Linked DNA regions of Homo sapiens. The protein of the gene in region 2 purifies or fractionates together with the protein of the main gene of each other region. This does not show direct contact. Each region holds a gene or a part of one and is shown on either strand. Other genes may lie near its edges. The genes, in order: PLXNA4 and XDH.

What was found.
Region 1: the proteins of XDH (region 2) and PLXNA4 purify together in Homo sapiens (co-immunoprecipitation; one large-scale study listed by IntAct). This does not show direct contact.

What each region holds. Positions count from the first base shown.
Region 1 is NC_000007.14:132,566,223-132,570,040, forward strand, and holds part of PLXNA4 (plexin-A4 isoform 1 precursor), read right to left. Parts: intron 1-3,818. UniProt on the Homo sapiens protein: Coreceptor for SEMA3A. Necessary for signaling by class 3 semaphorins and subsequent remodeling of the cytoskeleton. Plays a role in axon guidance in the developing nervous system. Class 3 semaphorins bind to a complex composed of a neuropilin and a plexin.
Region 2 is NC_000002.12:31,338,209-31,342,026, reverse strand, and holds part of XDH (xanthine dehydrogenase/oxidase), read left to right. Parts: intron 1-632; coding exon 633-698; intron 699-2,349; coding exon 2,350-2,538; intron 2,539-3,818. UniProt on the Homo sapiens protein: Key enzyme in purine degradation. Catalyzes the oxidation of hypoxanthine to xanthine. Catalyzes the oxidation of xanthine to uric acid. Contributes to the generation of reactive oxygen species. Has also low oxidase activity towards aldehydes (in vitro).

The DNA.
Region 1 (3,818 bases), on a different chromosome or scaffold from region 2:
GATTCAAACCCAAATACCACTGAGAGGGTACCCCCTTTTACCCCAACCCACATACACACTCCCACACTCTCCCTCTCTCTCTCACACACACACACATACAATCATTACCTATGTGAGATGAATGCCAGGCAGTGAAAACGCTTTCCATGGGAAATGCCTAACTTCACTCTCCAGGTCACTACCCAGTGGTGGAAACCATGGATTTACAGTCTAATTAGAAATCCTCAGCCTTTTCTTGGATGGCAAAGTTTTCTCTTCCCAAGAGAAAATTTGTTTCAACCGTCCAAAGTTTAGGGAGATGTGTCTTAATAACTCAAGCTTCCTTTGTTAATTTGATAAAGAACATTTATCTTTGTCAGTTATATTGAAGCCTCTTATTCAAGCAGTTGGAGAAAAAAAAATTGAGAAGGTGAATGTCATTACTCACATATTTTGCAAACATCCATCTTGATCTGTTATGTGCAACCAAAAAGTGCCACTTGTGGGAAACATGTCCACAAACCTGTCAGAGTGGCATTCACACTTTTTGAATTTGTTTCTTTATGAAATATACACCTGAAGGCAGATCACAAGGCCACTGTCGCTAAAGTTTTGTGAGAATTCGCAGTCATTTCTGGGAGTCTCAAAAGCAAATGACAAGGACAAGAGGCAGGCGGTGCCTCTGAAAGTTGGGGTCACAAGTCCCTACAAGTCCCTATTTTATCAGTACAGTGAATTCATTCTTCTGGTTTTTTCACCTCTGAAGTAAACCAAAACTTGAAAGCTTCCAGTTGAAGGTCACCATCTCCCAAAATGCCTTTCTATGGAACCGTCTTTCCAGGAGACATCAATAGGCTTAAATACTCCCACACAAACGGATCCCCATGGCCCAATAACCTGAAAAGCAGTGGGCAAAGAATAAATAGGTTTCCCAACAACAGGTCTTCTTCACCTTTAATTCGCCCTTATGCATCTCCTGAAGAGGACAAAAGAGAGGATGCTTGCAAAACTTACTTGGTCACAGAATGCTCTTTCCATGGAGGATTTTATAGACTAGTCTTTGGAATGTTCTGCTAAATTCAGCTTGGTCTCCCCCCCACCCCCCGCCGCAATCTATCAGTGCCAAAACCCATAGTGAGTTTTACACAGAGAGAAATAATTTAATTCCATGTGCATCCATGTGCAAGACCACTGCACCTACCTGTCCCCAACCACTATGACCCAGGATGCTGGAGGGTAACTGAGGGGCTCAGCCTGTACCCATCTGGATTCATCTGAATCCTCTGGAATAGCCAGTCAGTCTGACTTGATGTGATCCCTACTCTGTCCCTGCTGCAGAGTAAGAACCCACCATATTAGTCTGGTTCACCCTAGCCTTGATATTTTTAAGGTCATTCTTCTCCACCTTATCCTACTCCATTTATTCCTTCTATTTTTACAGCAAATATTTATCAATTGCTTCCAGTAAGATAGGCTCTGGGTTGGGCAATGAGTATACAAGAAGTAAGAAATGATCCCTCTCAACCTAAAACATAAAGAAATACATGATTCCCACTGTTTTCATTGCCACTGCCAGTAGCAGCTTCTTCACCATTATTAAAAAGCATGAATTGAGTTACTGATGAAACAAAAAACTGCTTGAAGCAGGGGCTGACCCTACCTTCTGGGAGCTGCAACTCTCAGGCAGAAACCCTAATGCAGGCCCACGTCTCTAGGTCAGTGATTTGCTCACATCAATCAGTGGTTAGGGGCAAGTGCATTTAGGGAGGAAGATAGGGTCAGTATCTAATGGACAAGAGAGCAGGGAAAGAGGTCACAAGCACAGCATGACCATTAGTCCTCTCCCCAGCCTGACCCTAAAGGGCCTTCAAAGCACAAGAGTAGTAAAAAACGTTGATGAGGGGCAGGACTAGCTAGAAGCAATGACTTACAGGAAATATTTTATGCAGAAATGTCCCCTGTTGCATTATATTTCAGTGCTTTCATTATTTCTTAAAACTGGGAGGGTGGCAGAGGTCATTACGACCTCCCCCTGCTTCCCAGCAGCCGTGCCATCCCTGAAATAGTCACACACCACTATGCGGAAGGCTGGCTGTTGCTTAGTAAGCCCCAAAACATTAGAAAAGTCTTCAGAAATCGGATTGGCACCCATTCTTAATGTGGTTTCTATTTGGGGTTTAAATGGGATAATAGTGTAGTCGACTAGTGTTGACACAGACTCGTGAATTCTGGGGCTCCTAATTGGAGTACCCTGCCCTGTCTTGCCATCTGACTCTGTTCTGAAGAACTTTATGTTCTTTGCATGGAAACCATTATCCCAGACTCCCAATTTATGTATCTGCCCAAATCTGCTGAGTCCCACCTGACATCACGCCACCCCACCCCAATTCTGAACTGCAGCCATTTTCCTGTTGAATCCTTGTTATCATTGCCACTGCCAGGAGCAGCTTCTTCACCATTATTAAAAAGCAGGAATTGAGCTCTTGATTAAACAAGACACTGCTGGAAGCAGAGGCTGACCCTACCCTCTAGGAGCCGCAACTCTCAGGCAGATGCCCTACCGCAGACCCACGTCTCTAAGTCAGTGAGTTGCTCACATCAATCAGTGGTTAGGGGCAAGCATATGTATTTAGGGAGGAAAACAGAGTCAGTATCTAATGGACAAGAGGCCCCCAGTGACGCTTTCTGCTGTTCCTCTGGCCCTAAAGTTCTTGCTGTCTTTTCTTCCTTCAGAGTCAAAGGCTGGGCTCCTGCAGGGGTAACCCTGACATACCTTCTGCAGGGAGAGCCAAGGAAGCCCCAGCCCCAGGGCCTGACCCACAGAGGCTCTAGCTTGACCTGGTATTCCCAACCCCAAAGTGAGGGGAGTTGACTCATGCCTCGTGGGGTGACTTGTGACCAGTGAGCTACAGCAGACCAGAAGGACCTGTGGATTAACTGCTGGCTGTGCCTCACCACCACAGACTATTCTGAGACATACTGTTCACACCAGGCTTCCCTGGATACCTCCTGAGTGACTGAGCCACCAGCTGCTTTTCACTGGGAAGGCAGGGCCAGCTTGGTAATACACTATTTGTTCTCCTTCCTTCCCTACCTCTCCTCCTTTGCTTCATTTTTGCTTCCCCGGGATCTCACCCCTCAATAAAGTCATAACACATAGCTTCTTCCTTGAGCTCTACTTTCTAGGGAACCCAGGCTGTGACTGGAGTGAAGGACAGACAGGCAGGGGCACAAGGCCCAGGCCCTCCATAGTTTTGACAAGAATAGTCCTGCTTGCATCTGTTCTGTGCACTGGAATTCCATATAAAATTTCACTGGAGCAAAGATTTTCACTGTATACATGTTAAAATATGTTTAATCACCGATCTAGACTAACCTCCTCATTTTATAAACAATAAACTGAAACATAAAATGATTTTTCCCAAAATGCTTTAGTTAGAGTTATCTACATCTATTTGTATCCAAAGCCTAGCTTTTTCCACAACAGTGGTTTTTAAGCAAGGGGACATATTGGAATCATCTAGGAACCTAAGAAAATGGACACGTGCCTAAGTAGCTGTCTCTTTCCTTGGAAAGACAAGGGACAGGATAGGCTCTGAAGAAGGCTGAGCAAATGCTGAGGCCAGAGGTGGACTCTGTACCTATCTGGCACAATTCTGCTTGAGAATCTATTGCTCACACAATCACCAGAATCCAGTACTTGGTTTACGTAATGCAAAGGTTCAGTGGAAATTTTCACTGTAGAAGCCACCCCTTTATTCACATTTGACAGTAGTCATAGCAAAGTGCTTGTCTTAGTCCAGTGTTTCTCAGTGGATTCCAGGTCCACTACACAGTTT
Region 2 (3,818 bases):
GTTTTAGACTTCGTGGGCCATACAGTCTCTGCCTCAGCTACTGAACTCTACCATTGAAGTGTGACAGCAGTCATAGACAGCTTGTAAACAGATAAGTGTGACTCTGTTCCAATAAAATATGATTTATAGACACTGAAATTTGAATTTGAATTGAATCTCATACAATTTTTACTTGTCACAAAATATTCTTCTTTTTATTTTTCCAGTTATTTAATAATGTAATTATTAGCCTACAGGCCCCACGAAAACAGGGGCAAGTTGGATTTAGCCCATGGAACGTAGTATATTGACTCTTTTGTACATGATCTACCCAGACTCAGATTCAAAGCCCCAGGTTTCTGGGACCCTATCTGACTACTCACGTATGAATGTGTGTTATTCCCAGTTACTGAGAGATCATTGCTGCTCCCCACTTCCTACCCGGCTGCTACAAACTCAGACTCCAGCGGGGATGGTGGCAGCAGAGATTTGGTGGGAACATCAACACTTCTGCCTGAGCACACCCAGGGCTTTCTGCTTGGGAACGTACTCTTTGGTTGGCACTTGTAGTCTGAGGGTCACTATGAGTCATCTGTCATATTCCAAACATCTTTTCCTCCTCTAACTTCTTGTAATTTTGCTGTCTACTCTAGAACCTCCGCACAGATATTGTCATGGATGTTGGCTCCAGTCTAAACCCTGCCATTGATATTGGACAGGTGAGGCTCAGTGGGACCAGGGTGGTGACAGACTTGGCCACCGATGCACCCCATTCCCCTCCTGGGGCCACCTGCCACAACATGTTGTCCAAGGTTGTCTTCAAACAGGCTGAAACATGGAACCTAGGGAGTTTCCCCCAAAGTAGAATTTAGATTGGTGATAGTCCAACCAACCCTCAAGGCAGAAAGCAAATTAATATGGGTCAACTTGGGAAGGGCACTCACAACTCAAAAACAAGATGAGAAATGAGGAAACATGGCATGCACATGTGAACATGCACACACACCCAATTTGAGTGTGAGCACAACGTAGAATGGGGATTGAGTTTGGGATCAATGCCCAGACAGTGGGGTCTGAGGTCAGAAGAGTTTTCTGTCTTCTCATTCCTCCTCCACCTAGGACAGCTTTTGTACCCCAGGAAGCAGATGCTGCCAAACATGGAGTGGTGGAAGGCCCTGGGAGCAAAACACAAAGGCTTAAGCAGAAGTAGTAAAGGGAGGTCCCAGAGAAAATCGCTTTAGGAGAATATGGGATTACTATGAAGAATAGGTGAAATAGGGCTGGGACCTGTGGCTCACACCTGTAATCCCAGCACTCTGGGAGGCCGAGGCAGGCAGATCACCTGAGATCAGGAGTTCGAGACCAGCTTGGACAACATGGCGAAACTCCGTCTCTATTAAAAATACAAAAATTAGCTGGGTGTGGTGGCATGCACCTGTAATCCCAGCTACTCAGGAGGCTGAGGTAGGAGAATTGCTTGAACCTGGGAGGTGGAGTTTGCAGGGAGCCAAGATCCCACCACTGTACTCCAGCCTGGGCGATAGAGCAAGACTCAGTCTCAAAAAAATAAATAAAATAAAATAAAGAATAGGTGAGATAGGAAAAAACAGAGGAGGAATCAAGAATTCAAGACTGAGCATCTGGTAGAAAATACAAATTGTACTTCTAAAAAATGGACAACTACTGAGTATACGAAAATCTGGCCATTAGTCAATCTGTTCATTAATTCATTGAACAACCATTTATGGTCCCCTACTGTGGCCAGGCACCAAGCCAGTACTGCAGACCCAAAGATGATTGCCAGTCGGTTTCTTTTCTGAATGCTCGTTGAGGTATGGTAGTGCCCCATGTCACGCTTCTGAGCAGGGGGCTGAGAGAGCAGATGTGTGGGCCTGTCTATCATGGCAGTTACCCTAGGAGAGACCTGTAAGCTGAACTGCAGTGGGGGCACTTTCTCCCAGAGGACAGGCAGGGGTGGGCGTTCAAAAAGGCTGGAGGTAAGTCTCAAAGAATCTACTATCGAATAAATCCTCCTGTGAGCTTGCTTCTTAGCTTTGGCTCACCATTTCCCCAGTAGCAACATGGAAGGAACATCTCCATCTGCACTGCGGCAGGTTGTAGTGGGAAACATGCCCACCTAGAATCACTGACCTTCCGTGTTAATGTCTTTGCTCTGCCTGAGCCAAAGCCTGGCAGAAGTCCGGATGGGTTATCCCAGGGCTGAGGCGGGAGCCAGGTAAGCAATAGAGGGCAGTTTTAGCTACATTCCAGGCCGCGCTGCAGTTGGCGCTTTGTGTCCATTGTGGCAAGTGGTATCTGTCCTCAGGGAAGAAGGTGGCAGGCTAACTGTGCTCTCCATCCATCCTGCAGGTGGAAGGGGCATTTGTCCAGGGCCTTGGCCTCTTCACCCTAGAGGAGCTACACTATTCCCCCGAGGGGAGCCTGCACACCCGTGGCCCTAGCACCTACAAGATCCCGGCATTTGGCAGCATCCCCATTGAGTTCAGGGTGTCCCTGCTCCGCGACTGCCCCAACAAGAAGGCCATCTATGCATCGAAGGTACCATTGCTCTGGCTCTGTGCTGTCTCTTCTGATCTGCCCTGGGGGAGGCCCCAGCGGGTGATGAGAGGCCTCAGTGACCCACCTGGTGGGACTTCAAAGGGCATATCTTGAGGAGGGAAGATGGTTTGACACTGACCTTGGTAGGGGCAGTGGGATAGTTGGGCAGTCCTGCTTGAGAACCAGTTAAATTGGGTTGAGGAGAGCACCTTAGTATGGTCTGAAGCCCACTTCTTTGGGTGAATTTAGAGGGATTCCTTCATCAAATCTTCTCATTTAAATCCTGGCCCACACCCATATCTCAGGCGTACGTCACTGGTGCTTGATCCTAAGAGATGATTTTACAGGTACAGCATTAGTATGGTCCAATGACAATCAGCACATTCACTGCCAATGGGATAGCACCTTTGTACACACCCTTTTACCTCCTTCAGTTGCCAATACTCGACCTTAAGACTTGATCAGGCTGGGTGCGGTGGCTCATGCCTGTAATCCTAGCACTTTGGGAGGCCTAGGTGGGTGGATTGCCTGAGCTCAGAAGTTCGAGACCAGCCTGGGCAACATGGCAAAACCCCATCTCTACTAAAAATAAAAAAAATTAGCTGGGCATGGTGGGACATGCCTGTAATCCCAGCTACTCAGGAGGCTTAGGCACGAGAATCTTTTGAACCTGGGAGGCAGAGGCTGCAGTGAGCCGTGACTGGACCATTGCACCCCAGCCTGGGCGACAGAGCGAGACTCTGTCTCAAAAAAAAAAAAAAAAAAAAAAAAAAAGACTTGGTCAGATGCCTGGAGGATTGTGTCTTCTATTTCTTCCTTATCTGCAGTAAGTATGAAAAAATGGTTGAAAATTGATTTAGCTGATGCATATAATCCTAGTTTGAAGAAGGAAGGCAACTAATCCTTGGTAACCAAAGAAACATCCATTTGCTCATCTCGTGGTTTACTTTACCATAGTGGGTGGGGAAGCTGGGACATATTGTGACCCTTGCCATTGACTGTCATACTTTACCATGCTTGGGAATTACTGAGGCCCATGATAAAAATGTGCCTTTCTGGGGCCCACGCCTAGAAATTTTGCTCCAATAGGTGTGGCTTAGGGCCCTGGAACATGCATTTTCAGCAAGTATCTTTAGTGATTCTGATATAGGTGGTCTCTGATCTATACTTTGAGGGGGAGAAAAACCAACCTATGCTAGAAAATGTTTTAATTCCTGTTTGTTCTTATGCCTATAATTCCTGCGGATGCTGTAATATGACTATGGTGCCTGTAAATGTTG